Homo sapiens: one gene and its partners. The protein of the gene in region 1 interacts with the protein of each later gene in a pairwise test. Each region holds a gene or a part of one and is shown in the gene's direction. Other genes may lie near its edges.

Region 1 (2,824 bases):
AAATACATGCAAATAACAAGATTTTCTTACCTCTCAGTTGTTGAAACACTTTGCTTCTTAAAATTGATATGTTGAAACTTTAATTCTTTTATCAATCCCAGCATTTTGAGATCAGTCTTTATTAATAAAACCTGTTCTCTTTAATCAGCTTAAAATCCAAAGTGTCATATTTACTGGTCCTGGAGACAAACTTGTTCAAAAGAACATCAACGTGCAATGTTTTAAGGTCTATCTTAAGAAGCCCTGGCCAAATTTTGATCCTAACCTTGAAGTATGCCTTGAACTTATTAACATGGCCATTATAAGAATAAAATATGTAGTTGTGTCTTAATGGAATTAATAAATGTCATTTCACTACTGGTGTTCTGTTTCAATGTATAAGGACTATAGTGATTTAAACTCATCAATGTGCCTTTGCATAAAGTTCATTAAATAAATATTGATGTGGTATAAATGCCCATCAGATATGCTTAAACTTGGTTTTCAGTTGAATGAAGTAGAGAATGTCCTCAGGACCATCAGCATTTTAAAGGTTATGTGACTTTTGCTGATTTCTCTGAGTTCAAGTTAAGCATGAAGTTAGTACCTCAAGCCTGTGATTTTTCCCTAGGGATGATACAGACCCAAGAGGCTACAACAGAACTTAAACTGGCTTCGTAATTAGAGTTTTTAAGATAATTGTTTGTTTTTCAGCAATATAGACTGAAAAGATCCAAGCATATTTAGCCACTTGCTTTTTTGTTTCTTGTTTTGTTCTTCTTTGGATGCCTGATTAGTATTGAAAGATAGAAATATTCTATGAACTAATTAGGACAGATTGTGTTGTGTTTCTCTACCTCATCTTGTTGATCTCTGGAGCATTAAAATCTATTTAGTGTTGTCATCAGTGTGGTACTTATGAAATGTAAGCTAACAGCAATCTCAGAAGGGAGGCAGTGAAGCATAGCAACTAGGCTCTTGTTTCTTCAAGATGGCCCCTGTGGGGCAGTGCATAGATGGGGGTGTAAAGAGAAGCTGTTGGCATTAAAATGAGCTAGATAATCAGCCCTTGTTGAAGCATATTCCATGGTATAAGAGTAGCACAGACATGAAACATAGATAAAGAAGGAAGGCTTAATAGACTAGAAGACTTCCACATTGAAGTATTATTAACCCATTGTATGTATATAGGGGCATGATCAGAGTCTCTATAACTTCCTGATTAACAATACAGTGTATCTTGTTACCCAGCTGTCAGTCTTTGAGAGCTTTCAGTAAAATATAGTAAATTCTTTCAGCATAGGCTAATGTGTGGTTACTGAGATGAGTGTTGTGTACTCAGAACCGTAGCAACATTTTTATGAATGGTAAAAGTACAAGAGGAGGAAAAGTTAAAATTAGAAGAAAAGTACAAGTTATTGCTTAATCATAAATCACACCAGATAACACATTTTGTTAATTTCATTAGCTATTACTGGAAAGGACCTTAACGATTATTTACAGAAAGGGGAGTGAAATTCATTGAGGTTCCATATCAAGTGGGCAACAAAACTATTACTAGCATTTTGATAAAAATTGCCCCTAATGAAATCTAGTCACTCAACAGTAAAACAACAGCTGGTTTACACTTGAAATTATGAGATCAGAATTGGGCACTTTGGGCTTCCGTACTATGTTTTGCTTAAGTTTTTTTTTTAATACTAATATGGGCTTTTTCAGTAGTAATATACCAAAACACTTCTATTTTAATCTCTGTTTGCTACTTCAAAACCTAATCCTCCTCAGATGGGATCATGAGCATAAGAGGAAAAGAGAAGAGAATGAATACTTGTTGACCTCTTGATGTGTATCAGATGCTTTAGAAATGTAATTGTATTTAATCCTCAAATACCTTATAGGTATTATTATCCCCTTCTTACAGATGAGGAAAGTGAGGCCCAGTTTAAATAACTTGCCCAAGGTCCTTTGGCTAGTACTGGAAGGAGTCAAGATTTAAACACAGTTCTGTCTGAATCCAGAACTCAAAATCTACATTGCACATGTTGCTTTCCTGGTGGTTCGGTGGAATGGACTGCAACGCATTAGATACTGCTGTTATTCTTCCAGGCCACCGCTCAGCTAAAAATAATTGTGTGTGTGTGTATATATATATATATGTACACACACACACATATATATACACACACACATATATATACACATATACATATATATACACATATATATACACACACATATATATGTATATATATACTACATTCTTGATCCTAAGTCTTTTTTAACTTAAATTTTATTACTTATACAGAATTCTTATTTATACTTTAATTATAGGTGTGACGAAGAGAAAGAGAGTAGGGAAATACACAGGCAGTGGTTTTAAGTGTAGATGATGGCTCCTTAACCCAGTGTCATTAGATAATCAAACCTAAAGTCTTCCCATATTAGGCAAGCGCAATTCTCTATTTTGGACCCTTCCCATTCTTCCCTTACCTTCTGCTTTTCGTACTGAGGAATTTCGTGTGATTTTAGATAAAGTGATAATGAGATATTGAGCAAATAAGAAAATAGAGGTAATGCTATAAAAAACTAAGCTATGTACACTTTCAAAATGCATGTTTCTTGCATGCTTTTTACTACTTAATTGCATTCTTTGCTAATTTCCTTTCCTTGCTGTCTGTTCTTTTCTAACAGCTGAAGAATGTTCTGCTGACTCTGACCTCAACTTTCTTATTCCTGTTGCAGTGGGTGTGGCCTTGGGCTTCCTTATAATTGTTGTCTTTATCTCTTATATGATTGGAAGAAGGAAAAGTCGTACTGGTTATCAGTCTGTGTAATCAGTTAAATC
Region 2 (4,094 bases), on another chromosome or scaffold:
ATCGTAAGCGGGGTGGTGGGGGGGGTAGGCAGAGAGACCTTTACTCCTGGCGAGCGTCTCTTTTTTAGCTCTCCGTAATAAATGAAATTAGAGGGGGTACAAACTTAACGTCGATTTTTTTTTCAGACTCGAAGAGGGATAATCTCTTGTTTTTCAAATTAGTAAATAAACTCGGATGTTTCCCAAGATGCTAAAGAAGAAGTCCTGTAATTCACCATAGAGGGGTCCGAGTGCAGAGAGTAAGGGAGAAGGGTGGGAGTTCTGAGACCTCAGAGAGGAAACGAACGAAGTCGAGCTGTCCTTGACCGGGCGCTAAGGAAACACTTTAAAATGAGATCTGTCAGCTAACAGCTGCTGGGGAAACTTGTTAAATCGACTGGTCCCTTTTAGCGGGGTCTGTCCATAGAGGAGTCAGCTGGGCTCCAGGACACGAATAATAGAGCGAATAACACGGACCGAGGGGCGAGGAGCTTGGAGAAGACCCGGACTCAGCCTGCCTGCGAGCCGGGAAGCTCCTAAGAGAAGCTGCGCGGGTCGGAGAAGGTGCAGGCAACCCTGTCTCTGGGCAGGATGATGCTGGGCGGTGGAGCTACGGCCGGCAGGGGTGGGATTGTGAGGGAGAGGCGGGGATGCAGAATTGGGATGCGGGGTCAGGATGCGGGAATGGGATGCGGGGCCTGTAAACTGCTGGGCGGTTGATGCAGGGCAGGGACGAGGAAAAGCAATGCGAAGCTGAGCATTGCGAGGCACCCTGACTCGAAGCAAGGCTGTAGGGAAGGATGCAGTGTCGGGATACCTGACTGACTCTAAGAGCTGCGCACTTGTCAGTTTCCTCTTGGCCCCACCCCGCGGGGTCTATCCAGCTCCCCAGTGTTTAACTAAGTCGTGACACCAACGCAAAATCCACGCCTAATTAAATTAATTAGGGATTCTTGTCAATCCTGGATTAATGGCCAAGAGCACAGGCGGCAGGGGCTATCTGAAAACCTGAGCGGCCGGGGACCGGCCTTCTCTCCCCGCCCCCTCCGGTCCCCCTGTGCTGCCCTACCACTCCAGCCCCAGCCCGCCCGAACTCCAATCTCTCTCTCTCCTCTTCTCTCTCTCTCTCTCTCTCTCTCTCTCTCTCTCTCTCTCTCTCTCTCTGTTTCTCTCCTTTTCCCCTCCCCAACCCCCGGTAGAGGCGCGACTGCTACCCGGGAAGGGGGCTCACTCCGAGTTGCGAGGGGAGGTAATTTACTCAAAACAAGAGGCCGCCGTTAGGAAGTATAAATAGTGGGACTTCAAGCGCAGCGTCGCTATCAGATCTGAACTCTCCGCAGGAAGAATTGTCAAAGATCTTAACATTGAACAAGCGCGCTCCGGCAGGGAAGCATCAGTTCCCATTTCCCTCCGGCAGCCCCCGCCCCTTCTCTTCTCCTCCTCCTCCTCCCTCTCCTCTTCACCCTTCTCCCCCTCTTCCTCTTCTTCCTCCTCCTCCTCTTCTTACTTCTTTTTCTCCTTCTACTTCTCCTCCTCTTTCTTCTTTCTTCTCCTCTTTTTCTTCTTCTTTCTCCTCCTCCCTCTCCTCCCCCACCTCCTGTCCCATTGATGTGTTATTATTGGGGGGGCTGGAGCAGTAAAAAAAGAAGAAGGAAAAAAAGAGCGGGGCTCTGCTGGCAGAGGTTGAGCGCCGGGCTGACGTGCGGCGGCGATGGAAGAACTTACGGCGTTCGTCTCCAAGTCTTTTGACCAGAAAGTGAAGGAGAAGAAGGAGGCGATCACGTACCGGGAGGTGCTGGAGAGCGGGCCGCTGCGCGGGGCCAAGGAGCCGACCGGCTGCACCGAGGCGGGCCGCGACGACCGCAGCAGCCCGGCAGTCCGGGCGGCCGGCGGAGGCGGCGGCGGAGGAGGCGGAGGCGGCGGCGGAGGAGGCGGAGGAGGTGTAGGAGGAGGAGGAGCAGGCGGAGGAGCTGGAGGAGGGCGCTCTCCCGTCCGGGAGCTGGACATGGGCGCCGCCGAGAGAAGCAGGGAGCCGGGCAGCCCGCGACTGACGGAGGGTAACGACCTGACTGACCCCCGGCAGCGGTTCCCCTTCCCGCCTTCCGGACTCCTCTCGGGCGGGAGAGGACTCCGAGGCCCAGCGGGGAGGGGAGAGGGACACGGAGAGGGCCCTGGACCCCAGCTTTGTCAGCTAGAGTGATAGTGGAAGGGTGGGGGTCCGGTGGTATGCTCGGTCATGGGTGGGGTCCTAGTGTGTTGTGGGGGTGGCGTGGGGGGAAGCGTGTGGGGTTTGTGCGCGCCCTTCCCAGATGTTCCCATTCCACCGAAATGCATTTTTCACCAGCGGGAGGATGGGCCCGCAGCCCGGATGGCCCGCAGGCGGACGTGGAAGTTCGCGGGGCCGGGCTGCAGGAGGGGGTGCTGAACCAGACGGCGGGACTAAAGCTAGCCTCTAGCGCAGAGTTTGCCGGGAGGGAGAAGGGGCAGAGGTGGAAAGCTTAACCCTCCGGTCGCCTAGGTGTTTGGGGCCGCCAAGACCCCTCGAACTCCGCAGAGCCCCTGAATCTTTGGATCTTAGGGGCCAAAACTTCCCATTCTCTTTCAAGGTAGAAGGAAGCCAACGAAAGCTGAGGTCCAGGCTACGCTGCTTCTCCCGGGCGAGGCGTTTCGGTTTCTTGGTGTGTTGGGGGCGGGGGGGGGGGGCGGCGGGGGAGGTGGGGATCTATATTTACACAATTCCTTTAGTGTTTTCAATCACCCAGTACTCGGTTCTCTTAGAGCAAAAATCCTTTGGTGCTAGCTCAGTGTTAGGAAACGTCTTTATCTCAATGGCAGAGCGTTCTATACCAATTCAAAGGAGTTCAACAATAAAATTGATTTGGCACTTGGTGCCTGCAGTAACTGGTGTACTGCCATATTTTTCCAATTAAGAAAATATGTGGCATGCGTGGAATCACATATTTAAGCAAGCAATTAAGTTGTTTATGACACGGTCTGTTCCTGTTTAGATCAGTAATTGGAAATTTGGGGACAAAAATAGAGATTTTATTAAGTCTATGGATCAACTTGAAATTTGGACATCTCCTCGAAGCCCCAAAACTTTGAGTGGCATCCACTGTGTAGATGACATGTAATAGACAAAGCCTTCCCACCTCATTGGCAGAATTTGAAGGGTGTGTTTTCATATTTAAATTTCAATACAATATCAGTAAAAATACTTTGCTATTAAATTGGCCCATAATGTTTACTATAATGTTCCTTCCTAAAGAAAGGACAAATGTCCACAAAACTAACTCTGAGAACTAGAAAATACGGCAATATTTAAGATCACCGTAGCTAGAATGCCCGGCAGGGCCGAGATCTAGCGACTCTTCTTCCTCCAAACCAGCACCAGGTCTTCCTAAATTTGTAAAGTGGTGGAGTTACCGTCAAGGTGCCCAGTGCAGCCTCCCGGCCATGAGTCCACAACTACAGGCCCGAACTACAGGTTCGCCAGCGCGCCTGACGGCGAGGTTCAGGTCTGAACCCCCGGCGGGCGCAGTTCCTGGGATTGTTGATTTCCAAGCTCAGGGCAAGTATTAATTTCTCTGCAGACCGGCTCTTCCGGAAATGATTTTTAACACCCATGCTGGCCTGGATCCTGCGCTGGGAAGAACTGCAAACAGCCTCGACTATCTAAACTCAGCTTTGACTTCTTAAAACCCGGAGTCTCTGATTCGGGCGCAGAGGATAAAGGTTCCAGGGGGATATATATATGGTGGCTGTATATGCTCACACTAGAAGAGCTCCTGTTTTTAAAGGGAGGAGAAGGACAGGAAAGTGGCAACGGATGTGTGCAAACCCAGAGCAGAAAAATTCATATTTTATTAAACATCCGAGCTGCTGGTTGCATGAAAAGGCTTTGAGCAACCAATAGAAACCGAGGATCGCGAATATTCCGCTTGAACCTGTTGATCTCTGTGGGTTAAGCGTTTAGGGTCGAGTCTGCGTTTCCACGAGGGAGGGCGAAGAGAGAACAGAAAGAGCGGTTGCTTTCGCCCGCCACCGGAGGCTGGTTTTCCGCCTCCTGCCTTCTGGCCCGGCTTGGGCGGCGAGCCCTTTGGGCAGCCAACATG
Region 3 (2,751 bases), on another chromosome or scaffold:
GGGCGAAATCCATAGAGATGAAGTTCCTCACCGGCTACGAGGTCAAGGTGAGCAGGGTTGCGGGGGATCCCCTGGGCCTGCTGACCCAGGGCCCGGCTCCCTGTGTAAGAATGGATGAAAGCACAGGGGGCAGCTGCCCTCAAGGGGCCCCCAGAGCCCGGGCCTCCTTGGGCACGGTCTGAAAGCTGGGGCCCACCCCGGCCCATGCTGCCCTGCTGAGCGTGAGATTTTCCGAGTGGGCCAGTGAGTTGGGGACTTGTCGTGAAGCTCTTGTTTCTGCCTCTCACTCTTGCCCACTTAGGGCTTGGGGTTGGGCCTCGATTGAGCCAACGTGCAGAGCAAGTGGGAAGGGAAGCCCCAGCCCTCCCCTCATCGAGCCTCCCTGGGGGGAGTTGGAAGAAACCTTAGAAGCCTTTTAAATAAAGGGGAACGGTCTGTGCTGGTGCCGCCTGAAGCCACCCACAAAGTGGCATTTTCCGCTTGCTGCTTGACAGTGGGGAAGGAGTTAAAGAAATCCAGGTCAAGCCTTGGGTCTGCCGTCTCATAGGAGTGTCATTTGAGGCTTGTCAGTATCTCTGAGCCCCCCTTATCTCAGCTGTAAGCGCTCAGCGGGCAGCAGCTCTCTCCCGCCTCTTCCTTATGGCCACTCGCACTGACTCGATTCCTGGCCGCCCCGTCCCTCTGACCACCTTGGGCTGTCCCTGGCGGCAGCTCCTCTCCCCTGCTCTGCTGGCGGCGGCTTCCTTAGGTTGCTAGTTCCCGTGGGCAGACACACGGCTGCTGGGTGTGTCTTGGGTGGACTCTGGCAGGCTCAGACACGCATGGTGGGAGGCCCTGCCAGCTTAGGCCCACGGACTCTGTTCTTTTTGGCCAGAACAGTGTTTTGTTAAAACTCTGTATGAGTGCCACGAGGCGGGACGCATCCTCTGCACTCTGCCACAGGCCCCGCCACTCCCTTTTGTATCACATCAGCCCAGTCCATGTTACCCTCGTGTTCCCGGCCCCTGTGGGTTTGAGTTTATGCCCATTACCATGATGTAATCCAGTTTACAGCAGAGCTTTGAATGAGAACTCAGCGCCCCGGGCACTGTGGGAGGAACCCGGGCTGGTGGAGGGCTCTGGTGTCTCGCCGCCATTTATCCTTCCTCTCTTGCCCCAGGTCATGGAAGACGCCCACTTGGATGCCATCCTCATCCTGGGGGAGGCCTTCGCCTCTGATGAGCCTTTTGATTTTGGCACTCAGAGCACCACCGAGAAGATCCACAACCTGATTCCCGTCATGCTGAGGCACCGTCTCGTCCCCCCACCCGAGGAAACCTACTCCCTGCACAGGAAGATGGGGGGCTCCTTCCTCATCTGCTCCAAGCTGAAGGCCCGCTTCCCCTGCAAGGCCATGTTCGAGGAGGCCTACAGCAACTACTGCAAGAGGCAGGCCCAGCAGTAGGGCTGCGGGCCACGCCCAGGCCGGCTCCGCGGGAACTCTCTCCCTCAGACAGGCCAAAAACCAGTAGCGAGGTCGTGGTGATGCTCTTTTTAACTCCTTTGCCCAATAAGGGGGGTGGCTGCCTGGAGCCCCGTAGCCAGCGCTTTCCACGGTTTCTGTTGCTAAATGGTTGTAGGGTGAGAAGTGCAAGAATGAAGATGAAGCCCCACTGCTCGGTCAGTCTGCCTCCGTGTGTCCTCTGAAATAAGCAGATGAAGATGAAAGGGCAACTTTGTTTTCTTCTTTTTCCTGATGTGAATGTTAAGCAGAAGGGAGAGAGTCCTTACTCCCTTCCAATCTCTGTTCAGTGCAAAACCCAGAAACATGAACAGATACGATTGTGGGATTTTATCATCTGTGTAGTAGGTGTGTGTATGTGTTTCTAGAGTGAGATTTGTGTTTTCTGCCCTTTTCCTCTCCAGCCGATGGGCTGGAGCTGGGAGAGGTGCTGAGCTAACAGTGCCAACAAGTGCTCCTTAAGCCTGCGAGGCCCAGGCCTGTGGGGCTGGTTCTCACCTTTGACAGCTGAATGTTCCTAAAGAACTGCTGCCCCACAGTGAGGGTGGGAGCAGCGGAACAGGGAATGCCAGACACAGGCTCGCTGCTGCTGGAAGGCGGGGTGGGACTTCCTTCCTCTGTCCGGAGAGGCACAGGTGTCACCAGTTCCAGCCAAAGGCTCCTCACAGGCGCTGTGAATTTTTGTACAAGTCTTGTAATTATCGAATCAACAACTTGTTTCAATTTAATAAAAATGCTCATGGGAAGTGCTTTGGCGCGTGTACCCTCTTCTGTATTCTGGAGAATGACGACCCGTATCTTCTAGCTCGTGGTGGTGGTTCTTTTCTGACCTGACGGTCAGCAGGTTCAGTGTCACAGCCCATTTGCAAGGGTTGGGACTGGTTCAGCGTGAGGCCCTTGGCCCTGAACCTGGAAGGCTCAGCCCCGTTCCCTGTAAGAAGGGAGGTGGGAGGGGTGGAGAACAGGAGGAGAGGTTGCGGTGTCACTGCCCCAGCCCCCGGGAGGCTGTACCACACTGCTGAAGCTGCTGTACCTGGTGATGGTGGCAACTGGGAGGACAGTGACACCTGCCAGCACGGCTGATGCCAGGTCTGCATCACAGTGAGACGTCTCCTCTCTAGACATCAGCTGCAGTTGAGGACCACGTCCTGAAAAGTGGCTTTTCCTGGGGCCAGACTGATTCCTAGATAACAGGACACACTGGACACTGAGCTGGGGCCCTTTCTACGGACCTGTGAGCAGTTGAAAGT
Region 4 (3,500 bases), on another chromosome or scaffold:
ATTTGTACAAAATAGTAGAGTTAGCCTATCCCTTTCTGCCTTGAATCCTGGTGCTTGCCTCTCTTCCTTACTAATAAATGTCTTTTGTGGCATGTTTTTTCAGAATAGGGCACTTTGATCTCCACTAAAAACCTGTTCTGATAGATATCCTTTCTTCTCAATGATTTTCCTAATGATGTGTGGGAACTCATCTGCTATCTTTTGTTTGGCAGAAGCTGCTTCTCTTGTTTTGTTGACATTTTTAAAGCCAAACTTCTTTCTAAAATTATCAAGCCATCCTTTGCTGGCATTAAATTCTCCAGCTTTAGATACTTTATTAGGGTTCTCCAGAGGGACAGAACTAATAGAATATATGTATATATGAAAGGGAGTTTATTTATTTATTTTTTGTGAGACAGGGTCTCCCTCTGTTGCCCAGGCTGGAGTGCAGTGGTGCAGTCTTGGCTCACTGCAACCTCCGCCTCCCGGGTTCAAACGATTCTCCCGTCTCAGTCTCCTGAGTAGCTGGGATCACAGGCGTGTGCCACTACAGCCCAGCTAATTTTTGTATTTTTATTTATTTTATTTATTTAGAGATGGAGTCTTGCTCTGTTGCTCAGGCTGGAGTGCAGGGGCTCAATCTCGGCTCACTGCAACCTCCGCCTCCCAGATTCAAGCGATTCTCCTGTCTCAGCTTCCCTAGAAGCTGGGATTACAGGTGCACGCCACCATGCCTGGCTAATTTTTGTATTTTGAGTAGAGACGGGGTTTCTCCATGTTGGTCAGGCTGGTCTTGAGCTCCTGACCTCAGGTGATCCACCCGCCTCAGCCTCCCAAAGTGCTGGGATTACAGACGTGAGCCACTGCGCCCCGCCCCATCCACTCAGTCTTAACAGATATTCTTGTGTTTGCCTTTTTAATGCCCTTTTAATCATTAGTATATATAAGAAGATTATGGACAAGTTTTTCTCTTTCTCCCCTCCTTGGAAGCCATATTAAAACAATTATTTCCCAGATGCAGTGGCTTACCCCTGTAATCCCAGCACTTTGGGAGGCTGAGGTGGGTGGATCACATGGGGCCGGAATTTGAGACCAGCCTGGCCAACATGGCGAAACCTTATCTATACTAAACATACAAAAATTTGTGCAATTGGTGCACGTCTGTAATCCCAGCTACTCGTGAGGCTGAGGCACAAGAGTCACTTGAACCCAGGAGGCAGAGGTTGCATTGAGCTGAGATTGTGCCACTGCGTTCTAGCATGGGTGACAGAGTGAGACTCTGTCTTAAAAAAAACTCCAGAAAACAATTATTAATGCATTTGATTCCTTGAAGGCTTTATACTGTGTTTTCTTTGGATAAACGTATTGGTACAATGAAGCATGCCTTTATCACTGGCTTCATCTAGAGAGGCAGATAACATCTGTTTGGCAAGCTTCACAAAATTCATTTGGAATTATAGAACCAAGATTAACTACGTAGGTGTGCATTGTGGATTGCATTCTGCCAGTGGCCCTGGCTTACCAAATATGCACTGAACTTGTCTTGGGTTCTATGGTCTAGTCCTTTTTTAAGACTTAAAGAAGGGATCCAGTTTCAGCTTTCTACCTATGGCTAGCCAGTTTTCCCAGCACCGTTTATTAAATAGGGAATCCTTTCCCCATTTCTTGTTTTTGTCAAGTTTGCTACAAAAATTAACTCAAGATGGATTAAAGACTTAAATGTTAGACCTAAAACCATAAAAACCCTAGAAGAAAACCTAGGCAATACCATTCAGGACATAGGCATGGTCAAGGACTTCATGACTAAAACACCAAAAGCAATGGCAACAAAAGCCAAAATTGACAAATGGGATCTAATTAAACTAAAGAGCTTCTGCACAGCAAAAGAAGCTACCATCAGAGTGAACAGGCAACCTACAGAATGGGAGAAAATTTTTACAATCTACTAATCTGACAAAGGGCTAATATCCAGAATCTACAATGAACTCAAACAAATTTACAAGAAAAAATCAAACAACCCCATCAAAAAGTGGGCAAAGGATATGAACAGACACTTCAAAAGAAGACATTTATTCAGCCAACAGACACATGAAAAAATGCTCATCATCACTGGCCATCAGAGAAATGCAAATCAAAATCACATACCATCTCACACCAGTTAGAATGGCGATCATTAAAAAGTCAGGAAACAACAGGTGCTGGACAGGATGTGGAGAAATAGGAACACTTTTATACTGTTGGTGGGAGTGTAAACTAGTTCAACCATTGTGGAAGACAGTGTGGCGATTCCTCAAGGATCTAGAACCAGAAATACCATTTGACTCAGCCATCCCATTACTGGGTATATACCCAAAGGATTATAAATCATGTTGCTATAAAGACACATACACATGTATGTTTATTGCGGCACTATTCACAATAGCAAAGACTTGGAACCAACCCAAATGTCCATCAATGATAGACTGGGTTAAGAAAATGTGGCACATATACACCATGGAATCCTATGCAGCCATAAAAAAGGATGAGTTCATGTCCTTTGTAAGGACATGGATGAAGCTGGAAACCATCATTCTGAGGAAACTATTGCAAGGACAGAAAACCAAACACCGCATGTTCTCACTCTTAGGTGGGAATTGAACAATGAGAACACTTGGACACAGGAAGGGGAACATCACACACTGGGGCCTGTTGTGGGGTGGGGGGAGCGGGGAGGGATAGCATTAGGAGATATACCTAATGTAAATGACGAGTTAATGGGTGCAGCACACCAACATGGCACATGTATACATATGTAACAAACCTGCATGTTGTGCACAGGTACCCTAGAACTTAAAGTATAATAATAATAAAAAAAAAGACTTAAAGAAACAAACGAAACTTATCTTGCCGCTTATTTGTCCCTTATTTTCCCACCATTAAAAGCTCATTTGATGTTCCCTTACATATCCTGCTTAATTTCTCTGAACCTTAATTTCCCTGCTATAGCATAAGTATGTCAGATGGCATCCTTAAGTTTCTTTCTATTGACTGAACACCCCCTCTGGTGTTGTGTTTATAAATAGTGGAGACAAAAATGCAGCAAGACAGGAGAAAGGAAAGCTCTGGATTGTCAACTCATAAAATAATCCAGACTGCGATTACCAACTCCATTTCAGCGGCTGCATCTTTTTTTGATTCTTCTATGGGCTTAAGGTGGTGGTAGTTATATGGGTGAATGTAAAATATCTTTGTGGAATTTTAACTCTACAGATTTTAAATTGTTGATTGGATTGCAGTCTCTTTGTAGTACTGCCTATAGAATATTCTCGGTGCCTACCAAGTATTTGACTACTTCATTCTGGCCTAAATATATGGAATGAATTTAGGTATGAATGTTGCTAACATGATTTCTTGTTGCAGACAAAACTTACCTGGGGTCCCTACTTATGGTTTTACATGCTTCGGGCTGCTACATCAACTCTCTCAGGTATTGCTTTTCTGCTTGAATATTGTATAATTGCTGTAACATGCTTCAGCAACAG

The links.
Region 2: the proteins of LAMP2 (region 1) and SHOX2 interact in binary tests that used the Homo sapiens proteins (3 or more experiments, as listed by UniProt).
Region 3: the proteins of LAMP2 (region 1) and COQ8A interact in binary tests that used the Homo sapiens proteins (3 or more experiments, as listed by UniProt).
Region 4: the proteins of LAMP2 (region 1) and FAM177A1 interact in binary tests that used the Homo sapiens proteins (3 or more experiments, as listed by UniProt).

What each region holds. Positions count from the first base shown.
Region 1 is NC_000023.11:120,428,473-120,431,296, reverse strand, and holds part of LAMP2 (lysosome-associated membrane glycoprotein 2 isoform A precursor), read left to right. Parts: 3' UTR 1-2,670; coding exon of another isoform or gene 2,671-2,813; 3' UTR 2,814-2,824. UniProt on the Homo sapiens protein: Lysosomal membrane glycoprotein which plays an important role in lysosome biogenesis, lysosomal pH regulation and autophagy.
Region 2 is NC_000003.12:158,103,621-158,107,714, reverse strand, and holds the start of SHOX2 (short stature homeobox protein 2), read left to right. Parts: upstream 1-1,294; 5' UTR 1,295-1,690; coding exon 1,691-2,036; intron 2,037-2,273; exon of another isoform or gene 2,274-2,585; coding exon of another isoform or gene 2,586-2,657; intron 2,658-2,709; exon of another isoform or gene 2,710-4,094. UniProt on the Homo sapiens protein: May be a growth regulator and have a role in specifying neural systems involved in processing somatosensory information, as well as in face and body structure formation.
Region 3 is NC_000001.11:226,985,294-226,988,044, forward strand, and holds the end of COQ8A (atypical kinase COQ8A, mitochondrial), read left to right. Parts: coding exon 1-47; intron 48-1,159; coding exon 1,160-1,444; 3' UTR 1,445-2,251; downstream 2,252-2,751. UniProt on the Homo sapiens protein: Atypical kinase involved in the biosynthesis of coenzyme Q, also named ubiquinone, an essential lipid-soluble electron transporter for aerobic cellular respiration.
Region 4 is NC_000014.9:35,073,772-35,077,271, forward strand, and holds part of FAM177A1 (protein FAM177A1 isoform 1 precursor), read left to right. Parts: intron 1-3,378; coding exon 3,379-3,445; intron 3,446-3,500.